Regions from separate parts of the Homo sapiens genome. Here region 1 is linked to region 2. The links come from fine-mapping of genetic effects on gene expression. A gene starts in region 2. The other region holds a variant in brackets. All regions are shown on one strand. Distances are between the middles of the regions. Region 1 overlaps ERC2 (ELKS/RAB6-interacting/CAST family member 2). Region 2 holds the start of WNT5A (Wnt family member 5A).

Region 1 (5,378 bases), 620 kb after region 2:
TCTAGACTGGTAGTCTCATGAAGAAATCAGGGTCAATCAGACACAAGCTGTCCTTATTCTTAAAACACAACTTGAAAGTCAGAAAAATGGGTAGAGGATCTAAACTTGGCACATGATTTCAGAAAGAATGCACAATTCAGGACTTATGTTTCTGGTACAGAAAGAAACTTGTAAGGCATGATTTGAGTTCACTGAATAAGAGAAGTTTTTAAAATTCCTTTATGAAGATCCAAACTGTATACTAATGTTCACTATAATCTTGATAGGTGTCTAGTTTCTTAATAAAGTAGGATCCCTTTTGCACTGGGGGTGGGTGGGGATCCTTGAGAAGGGCCTGCCTGTTCGCTAGGCAGAAGGTTCAACAGGAAGAACCACAGTGAAGAGAGCCAAGCTCCGCCTGGCAGCACCTCCAGAGATACAATAGAATTACACTGGCCCCATGGAAAAAGGAAAATAGATAGAAGTTCACCTGTAAGCAGAATGATCCAGTTATGTATTAGAGCTCCCTTCGTGGAGGTCTGCAACTGGGAAGAAGGAACCAAAAGTATTAATGTTTAACGAGGACACAACAATAAGTGTGTTTATTCTTCACTGTCCTGTTGTCCTAGTGTTGAAGGGGGAGGGGCCTTTAACTTGGGGTTGTCTTTAGGGCCTTTCTGGACTCTGGGGACAAAGAAAATAGAGGAAACATAAAAATAGCCCAGAGGTTAGGTACATGTTTTGTTTTCTGGTTTACTTATTTATTTTTTTAAATTTGTAATGCTGAAAAAATGGAGAGCAAGGCAGAGAGAAAAGCCACTTTGGTCAAAGACTAGCCATGAGGGAGTAACAGCAGCCCTGGGGTGTTCTTTGAAAATGGGACAAGTGTTGCTAGTGTTTATAAACTGGCTTATATTTATCAGCATTCTTGTGCTAGCAAGTCACTGGAAATATTTCCAGTTAGTTTAAGAAGAAAAGAGGATTTAGTGATTTATGTGATTCCTTGGGATAATGTTCTTTGGGATATAGAAGTAAAGATTACTTTTTAATTACTTTGGCTGCTGGAGGTGTTTCATTGACTGTGACCTAATCACCACGGTGAATCAATCAGAGGTGATCAGGTGTTAGGCCCAGCCAATCGCAGCCCTTCTTAGGACCACGTAATGCATTCAATACGGAAACATGTTTTATTCTATTGGGGTTGCAAAGATGGGAGGATATGAACGAGGATATGATACTGGGTCTGCTGATGGCCCTGGCATCTTCCAATATATAGCCCCCAAAAAGGAACAAAAGGCCAAGATATTGAAGGGGGAAATGAAAGAAATGCAATGATGGCAATGTTTGAGTCTCTGGATCCAGCTATGTCTAAAGTCAATGCTATCCTGAAATTTCCAATCACACAAATCATTAAATCCACTTTTTTTTTTTTTTTTGCTAATTTTAAAAGAGTTGCAGTTACTTGCTAGCATAAGAATGCTGACTAATGTAAACTGAAGCCCATTAAGCTTCCCATTCCTTCTTTAAAATGAACTATAAATCCTCAAACTAAACACAATAGTCTCTGACTCAACCAAGGGGCTTTGGGTCCCAGTCTCAGTTTTCCCAGGCTGCACCCTTACTGACCTACTCTGGTCAAGCCACTCACCCAGTCTCTGCTTCAGTTTCCTCATCTGAAAAAATGATGGGCTCTCAAAGACCCTGTCCACCTCTGATACTCTGCTTTCACCCTAAAAATGTGCAGGCAACCACAAGAGCTAAAGCACTCGGAAACTATTCCCCATCACCAAAGCCACCCTTCTGATTTTTTCATTACACCAAGACATTTTACCTAAATAAAATATAATAAAACAGGGAAAACTAAGTACCTATTTAAAAAGCCATTGACTGAATCTTCTCAATCTAACAAAGTAAGGGAAAAATGTGAGACATGACCCCATCCAAAGTAGAAAGCCTAAATAGTAACTGATTCCTACTGTAATAGCAACTAGGTGAATTTTTTCAAACTTTCAAGAACAAATGTTTTCCATATAAGATATACTACTCAACAACAGAAAAAAATTGTTAATTGATGCTGTCAAGAAATCTTACTATCCTGTAAATCAACACACAATCTAGCTATGTACATATATAAAATCCTCCTTATTAGTATGGATACAAAAGTCCTAAATAAAACTAGCATATGGAATTTAAAATACTTAGAGACAACACCATAACAAAAAGGCTTTCACCTAGGGTCCTTTAGCCTAAGACACTTTATTAACAGAAATACCACATCAATAAGCAAAGTAAGAAAAGCTAGTGAGCACTTTAATTGATATTAAAGTATTATTTAGTAAAATGCAACTTTCATTCCTATAAACATTTTTAAAGGGAAATGGAAGCTCTCTCAACATGAGGGAAAGTATTTCCACAGCAAAGAACCAATATGTCATTACTCAAGAAACTCCTTAGGCCATTCCCATAGAAAATATAAGCAAATATTTAATGTTTTGAAGTTTATCGCAGAACAACACACAAAAAATATTTTCAAAGTAGAAATAGTGACAACAAAGGGATAAAGATAATATTATTTGCCTTAACATATAAAGAAAATTTAAATAACCAATAATTTTTTATAATCTTAGGAAAAAATAATGATCTGAATACAAATATATATACACATATCTATTTCTTATACATATTTCAAAATGACATTACAAAAGATAAATCACTTAGGAATAAACTTAATAAGCATCATAAAAACACTGAAAACAGGAAAATAATTGACAGTATATCATATTTACTTAAACTAATCAATTCTCCCTAAGTTAATTTATAGATTGAATGTACCCTATAGATGATTCTTTTTAAAAATAAAGAAAATGTTTCTAGAAATCAACTAGGGGGAAATCAGGTAAGCATGTCCAATACCATTCTGAAAAAGCAATTCTGGATTGAAAGGAGCAATCTCTTATCTATCCAGAACATAAAGTAGGAGAGCCTGCTG[T/C]AGGATACAAGATTAATAATCAGGCTGACATACAGTCCCCAAACAGAGCCAATGATAGATGAGAAATAATATGAAGAATGAATCAAAAACAGTGAAGAAAGACCATTAAATAAATTATATTAAGATAAATTAAACAGAAAGAAATTAACTTAAATTCATGCTTTGTAACATCAAAATAGACTCTTTTTTTAAACTTTCATTTTAGATTCGAGGATACATGTGCAGGTTTGTTATATAAGTAAACTTGTGTCACAGGGGTTTGTCATATAAATTATTTCATCGCCCAGGTACTAAGCCTAGTACCTAATAGTTATTTTTTCTGCTCCTCTCTCCCTCCTTCCCCCTCCCACCTTCTACCTTCAGGTAGGCCCCAGCATCTGCGGTTCCCCTCTTTGTGTTCATGAGATCTCATCATTTAACTTGTAAGTGAGAACATGCGGTATTTGATTTTCTGTTCCTGCTTTAGTTTGCTAAAGATAATGGCCTCCAGCTCCATCCATGTTCCACAAAAGACATAATCTCATTCTTTTTTATGGCTGCATAGTATTCCATGCTGTATATGTACCACATTTTCTTTATCCAATCTGTTACTGATGGGCATTTAGGTTGATTCCATGTCTTTGCTATTGTGAATAGTGCTGCAATGAACATTCACATGCATGAGTCTTAAAATAGACTCTTGACAGATCTAATCTATCAAGGAAGTTTTTTTCCAAATAAAGTTAAACTGGTTACACGAATTATAGTCCATGCACATAACAGAATATGATGCAGCAGTGAAAAGCCTGAGGTCAGCCATCTCTTGGGTAGAATGAATTCTTGGGTGTCCTGCTAAGTAAAGAATGTAAAGGTACACAACTGTGGCCATGGGACACTTCCAACTGCAGTGTTGAAATTGCTTTGACTTTGTACATGTATTGTACTTCCAAAAAGAACAAATAAACTATAAAGAAACAAATGTTTAAAAACCAACAACAACAAACATCAAGGCGCAGAGAACAAGCTGAAATTAGAAGACAGGACTTATCTGATCCTTGGAAGAACTAAAAAAGTGATGACAGAAATGACTGACAAATTCAACTGTATGTACAGCCAAAAACCTCATGACAACTCACAAAACCAAAATTTAGAAGACAAACAACAAAATGGGGGTAAATGTCTGCATTAACTAAGGAAGAGTTAATATTTCTAATATGAGATTACACTAGACAAGAATCCACCATATAGGCAAATCACGGCGAAAATATACACAGTAAACAAAGCATGGAAATATATTCAACCCTGCAATATAATTAAAGTTGTAAAAAGGCAGGATAGTGTTATGCTGAACATTTTCACTTTAAAAGACCCAGTACTAGCAAGGCTATAGGAAATTTGGTATCAGTCTTTTGCTGAGGTATTATAATAGGTACACGAGCACCTTTTAAAAAGCAATTTCAAAGTGCACAGAATATGCCATAAAAGTGGTTATACCCTTTGACCCAGTAATCCAAATGTTCAAAGATATTCCCACTGCAATACTAACTATACAAGTGAAAAATTTTAGAAATAGCTGCAATGAACAAAAGTAGAAGTGTGGCAAGGGAAATCATGACACACAGTGTGATTAAGAATAAAATTAAGAGGCTTATAACTACATGGGCACAAGTTTAATGACAAAAAGTTAAATTTAAAAACTCAAAACCCTGAATTTTGGCTATATTATAAATGCAACTATATTTAATATAATGTACATACAACATAACAAAGTCCCAAAGGAACATGGAAAGAATTTTTTAAATTCTGTCATAATGTTAAAATTATGATGGATTTAAGCATTGATATCATTAGAGCATATTAACAATACATTACAAGGGGAATTATAAATTATTTTTGGAAAATGGCCTGTAGGCAGGATTGAGACAGGTAAATATTTTTCAAAAATTTCCCCAGCATGATATGATACATCAATACTGGCTTATTTGATTCTACATATCTAAATGGATAATCAAAGACTAATCTAGAATGAGAGCTAGAAGAAAAAGACTTTGACTGCATCTCATGTCTGCCAAGGTCACCTCTGGAGTCCAGAATACACATCTGCTCTTATTAGGGTCTCTACCTGTTCATATGGAATACTCCTAGTTCTTTTGATTGTTGGCCTGATCACTGTCTCCCAGATGTTTTCAAGGGGGTGGGGGTAGGGCCACCGAGGGACAGTGGCTCAAGGACTCTAAGTCTCTCTCCAATTGAGGGCACATGACCTCTACATTCCCATTATAGACCCCAGAAAGTTATGTGTGAAGGAATGTGTCCTGGTGTGTCCCTGAGGCTGTGTTCTATGAACTCAAATCCTGTGCTTCAGTCCCAGTGTCTTTAAGAGATTCACTTTCTAACAGCCAAGACCAATTCGTAGTTTAGACAAAAACAA
Region 2 (5,360 bases):
TTCTCACATAGGATGTCTAGCCCTCTCGGCAGAGGATCAACTTTGTCCAGAGGTGGAGCAGAGTCCTTGGACAGAGGAAGAAAATGAAATGATAGTCCAACCCCCACTCTTTAAAGGTAGTTTCTCTCCCACTTTTTAATAGACGATTAAAGTGAGGCGAAAAGCGGGAAAGCAACACTTGTTCTCGATCATAGAGAGTTGGGAGGCAGCTGAGGCCAGACCCGAGGCCTCCTAGGGCGACACTCTCCTTCCCAAGCCCAGAAGAAGAGGTACCAACCCTGTGTCCAGCTGGCCGAGTCCCATTTGCTGGGCTGGACCCGTGGCCCCTTCCGTATTGCAGCGGCCGGCGGCGCAGCGAAACTGGTCCTCTGGGGGCCTCCGAGGGCCCCTGCTGGGAGAGTGGGGTCTGGTGGTCGGGAGGGATGAAGGGAGCAGGGGTGGGAGGGAGAGGGGAGCAGCTGCCCGCCCGCCCGCCCCAAGGAACCGAGGCTCGCAGGAGTCCTACCTCAAGGCGGCCAACAGGGGGCAGCCGGCACCGCACCGCGGGGAAGAAAAGGCCGCGGGGATGGCTCCGAGTTCTGCGCGCATAGTGCTAACCCCTTGAGCACCGGAGCGCACGGGGGAGGGGAGGAGAAGACAGGGGACTCTTGGGCCGGGCCTCCTGGGGAGGGTCTTCCGTTGAGAGGGTCGGGGGGTGGAGGAGACGAAGGCTACTACGTCCTGGACCCGAGAACAACTCCCCTACACACACAAACACACACGCACACACACGCAGCCAAGGATCCACACACTCGGACACACACACATTTGTCGGCCCGCGGTTCGCTGCGCACTCTCCGCATTGCCCCCTCGAAACTCCCCTGGCAGAGTCTGTCTAGAAACTAAATCTGGCTGGTTCGGCAGTGAATGTGCGAAGGTGGCTGGGGGGAGGGCAGGGGCTGAGGAGGTGCGACCTCACCGCAAGGCCCAAGTTACTTCCAAACAGCGAATTACCCATTTAAAGAGAGAAGAGAGAAAAGAGAGGCGAGAGAGGAGAAGGGGCCTCGATACCAGACAGGGATTAGAAAGTCAAACAGGGCCGTGGGGTCTCCAGACTTGAAGTTTTTTGTTGTTGTTTTTTTTAACTTTTTGGGGGGAAGAGGGGTTATTTGCTTCCAGGAAACATCTTAATTTCAATTCTAACCTTATTTTCTAAGAAACTTAAAATGGGAAAGACCAGAAAAATGGAAATAGGAATCGAAGCTTGGAGGACAGATAAGAAAAATTGTTTAGAAAATAAAAACTTATGTTGCAGGAAGAAACGTTAACTTTTCGTAAAAGTGAACTCTCAGTGACCCTCGGAGTGTGTGATTCGGCTTTAACATACAACTGACAATTAAAACAAACAAGAGTTCGCAAACTGGCCCCCGCCTGCTCTCCCAAAGCGGAGGCCCAAGTGTTTTCTAAAGGACAAGGCGGACTCCGCTCAGGGGGCCGGGGAGCGCTGTCCCGGAGTACGGGATTACAGCCACTACCACCACAACTCCCCGCCCCCACCACTGCTGCAAAGTGCCTGAGCTCACCCAGTGGCGGCTAATAATGCTAATAACGCGACCCCGCTCCCCGCGCCGGGGTGCGCGCTGGCCCCCCGCCAGGCACTCTTAAAGGCAAAGGGGCCTGAAGCGCTCGAGTTACTCGGCCAAGGCAAGCCTACAATCTGGCCTCCGTCGGTGCGGGGGGGTGTCGGGGAAGGTGTACGCCGCTCTGGAGTAGTTGGCCCCTAGTTCCTCTGCGGGTTCTCTCAACCAAGGAGTCCCTTTCCCCATCCCGAGCCCCGGCCACACACCGTCCCGGTGCCCGCGCAGTGGGCGCTTGGTAAATATTTGTTGAATTGAATCATTATCCTGTTACTGAAATATACATAGTAAATTACACTCGATGTTCTCAGAGCAAAAGGAAAGTCGTCAGTGAACCGCACTCAGTTTGTCTACTATCGCTCTTCCCCACTTTTTCTCAAAAATCAAAATTGTTTGCAGAACGGGTGGTGCGACCAGAAGTGATCTCCTGGGACACTGAGGCAGTGCGCCCGGCGTGGAGGGCGAAGGGGTAGGGGTTCCTGCCAGCGACGCTGGAGTTCCAGCTTCTTCAGGCGGTTGGGGAAATGGAGGGATAGGAAGAGGCGAAGGGAACTCAGTTAACTTCCAACAGGGGGTGGGGGGAAGTAAAGAAAAAAAGTGGCAGCGCACTGAACACCTACCTTCATGGCGAGGGGGAGGGGGCGCGGGGAGGAAGTCGCCACCCGAGCGAGCGCAGCCGAGGAATCCGAGCGGAGCGACCGGGTTAAGCCTGGGGGGACGGTCAGGAGCAGGGCTGCGGAGTCCTCCGGCGCGCGTCCGGCGGGCGCAGTGAACCGGAGCTGAAGCGGGCACTGGCGCCCGGGCCTGGACTCCCGAGTTGGGGCAGAGCTGGGATGCGCCCAGGAATGGAGGGGGCGCGGACGCGCGCGAGCCGGCAGCAAGGGCAGGGCCTGGTCGGGGCGCAACTAGGGAGCCGCCGGTCCGGCGAGGGCGCGCAGGCAACTGTTCCACGGAGAGGCGCTCCGTTTCCAACGTCCATCAGCGACGGCGGTAATTAGGGCTTTCCAACCCCAAATGTGGGCGTGATTGTGCAAAAGACCTTACGACAAATAATAATAAAAAGAAATTCTTCACAAGAGGGTGAAAAAAATGTACCACTACTCAACTGTGGCCCGGGGCGGGGGAAGGGGGGCGATCTGTGCGCCCAGGTGCCCCCAGTTCATTCACACCACAGATTCTGCAAACTCTTGGCGGCTCACGCCTCCTGATCTCCAGCTCCTCCTCTCTGGGTCTGTAGCCGAAACGTCTGCTTCCAGACGCTGATCCTGCAGCCGCGAGTTAGTGTGGACGTCTCTGTACACACACAGACACACACCCCAACACACACACCCCCGCTGCAGCTTTGGGGCCACAGAACAATCAGGCGCGCATGGCTTTTTCTCCGGGAGATGCCGCTGAAAACGCACAAGTCGCCATCTGAGCTGCAAGAGTCAGCCCCAAATTGTGTCCTTTCATTTTAGGGTTCGGCAAAAACGGGGAGCAAAATAGGTGAAAGTCGCCCCGGAACTTATTGCTGTGCGGTGAGCTGGAGGGGTGCGACTAACCCAGGGGAGACGCGGGCTCCCCCCCCCCACCACGTATCCCGTTCTTTCTCTCTTCGGGTTGATCTCTCTTTTCCCCGTTTTTCCAGGGCGAAGGGCGAAGAGCAGCGAGTGCACCGCGGGCGCGAGGCTGGGGAAGGGCGAGAGCTCGGAGCTCCGCGGCGGCGACTCAGCTCCGGCGGTCCATGGCCGGCGAAGCTGCCCACCTCCTCGTTTGGCGCCCGGGTCCGAGGGGCGGGAGAGCGGGCCGGCGGGAGGCGGGCGGTCCCGGGCACAACGGCGGCGGCGGAAGGGCTCGCTGGGCAGCTGCCGCACGGACCCCGGCTCTGGGCGGCGGAGGCGGCTCCGTGGAGCTCGCAGCAGATTTCCACGCGATCCTGTGCCCCGCAAACAGACTGACCGACCGCGGGGACGCGTCCCCCCCTCCCACCCCCCAGCCCTTCTGGCCAACTGCCTTACTCTCTCCCTCCCTCTCTCCAGACTCCTCTTTCCCCTGGTGTTCTCAGAAGGAAGAAAAAAAAAAAAAGAAAGAAAGAAAGAAAGAAAAAAGTTCTTTAAAGTTTCAGAACTAGGGGCGGCTGGAAAGAGAGAGGGAAGGGGGGGGAAGAAAGAAAAAACTCAACTTTGCTATGCGCATGCGTGGTGAGGCCGGCCTATGACAAACTCTGCAGGATTTTAAAGCCGTACTACGGGCTGGGGTGCCGGGAGGCGGGGTACACTCTCCTTGTCTCCCCTTCTCTAAGTTCCCCATCCCCCGCGGCATCTGCTGAAAGAGAGAGGTCCACTCCGCAGCCGCTGCCTGCCTGCCGCCTGGTTGTCTGCGCTCCTTCCAGAGCCACCGACCGGCGGGAGGCTGAACCCCAACTTCCCCGCCTGGACCCCTTGGCTCGCCCGCGTATCCCAGACCGCTCCCACTGGGGCTCCACGGAGACTGCTGCCTTGACATGGAACCTCATGGGGGACCTCCTCATTCTTACCTCTGGGGGAGGATACTTAAGCACTGGGGCTGATGGATAGGGTTAGGCGCTCACCTCCTGCAAAGTCCCCAGAGTAGTAGGGACTTGGGTAGTGGGATGCATGATTGCTCATCTGGCTCCGGCCCAGAGCATGAGGCGCGATGCGTGGTCCTGCCACGGAGATCTTGGCGGGTGCCCTCAGGTGAGGAGATTGCGAAGTTTGGCAAAACCGGGTTCCGGGCACCGGAATTTCTAGACGCTTCCAGATGCCCGTGGTTTTGGGGACTCCGGAGGGGCAGGGTTGGTGGATTTGTGTCCGCTACCTCCAGCACGCCGAGGGCCCCACCCCACAAACAGTGCCTCACACTGGAGCGTAATAGTTATTTTCCGCCGTCTGCATTCTCCAGCTGTCAAAGGTGAAGACACACACACGCGCGCACACACACACACACACACACACACACACACTATTCAATTTTCTCCGTCCATTGGCATGCACTTGACCTTAAGGCGAAAAATCCGTGGCCTAGGTGTTTTGGTGTGGTGGCTGTTTTGTTTTGTTCCTCCAGTCCTCCCCCACCTCCACCCCCACACCCCAGAGGGCGCAGGCCCAGGCTCCAGCGATGCCGTTCCACCCTCCACAGCCCCTTCCCATTCCTTAATTTTCCTAGCCGACTGGACCCTTCCCCAGCCCTGGCCTCCTTCCTGGCGCGCAAAGATGGCAGTGTGAACTTCCCACCAAGTGCCAGAGACAGATGCTCCTGCTTAGCACCTCCCGCCTCCCACCAACTTGCTTTCTTTCCCCCAGGGCGTGTGCGGCCTTAAGGAGAGGGAATCCAAGGTTCTCAAAGCTCCCCTTGGGACATCTCCCCTTTACCTCCTGAGTCTCCATTCCTCTAACCTTCTCCTCTGTAAACCTTGACCACTTCCCGACCTGTGGGCATTTTACAGTCTTCGAATCTAACCTGAGATCTGCCCACCTGAGGAGGGTGTCTGAAAAAGAGCGTCTCCGCCCGGCAAATCGCCCCCAGGCTGCGTCCCTCCGCCCTTCCCCCTCTCCCTTGCCGTTCTGCCCAGTGGCCGCAGACTGAGATTCCCTGGCTGCGGGAGAGCATGTGCCTCCTAGGCAGACACTCCAGCCCCGCCCCGCGGGCAGGGATCTCCGGGACCCACCTTACGTGCAGCAGCTCCAAGAAGTGGCAGGATATGAGCTGACTATGAAAGGGGCTGCCAAAGGGCGCTCCCGA

Evidence for each region. PIP is the estimated chance that this variant, and not a neighbour inherited with it, causes the effect. A credible set is the group of variants that fine-mapping cannot tell apart.
Region 1: its variant is the best candidate, but not a certain one, in a credible set for the expression of WNT5A in cerebellar hemisphere (GTEx, PIP 0.53).

The regions. Positions count from the first base shown.
Region 1 is chr3:56,105,864-56,111,241 of GRCh38, forward strand. All of the region lies in intron 6 of ERC2 (ELKS/RAB6-interacting/CAST family member 2), which reads right to left. Among named protein-coding and RNA genes, the nearest start is that of MIR3938, 260 kb to the left of the region's middle. RefSeq lists an enhancer at 4,904-5,378. The variant T/C (reference allele first, on the strand shown) is at 2,969.
Region 2 is chr3:55,484,744-55,490,103 of GRCh38, forward strand. It overlaps WNT5A (Wnt family member 5A), which reads right to left and starts at 2,563. Exons shown (of 5, transcript NM_003392.7): 1 at 2,237-2,563. The coding sequence starts at 2,242. WNT5A-AS1 (WNT5A antisense RNA 1) reads left to right here and starts at 2,875. Exons shown (of 2, transcript NR_046656.1): 1 at 2,875-3,136; 2 at 3,247-3,565. RefSeq lists enhancers at 4,187-4,697, 4,698-5,209.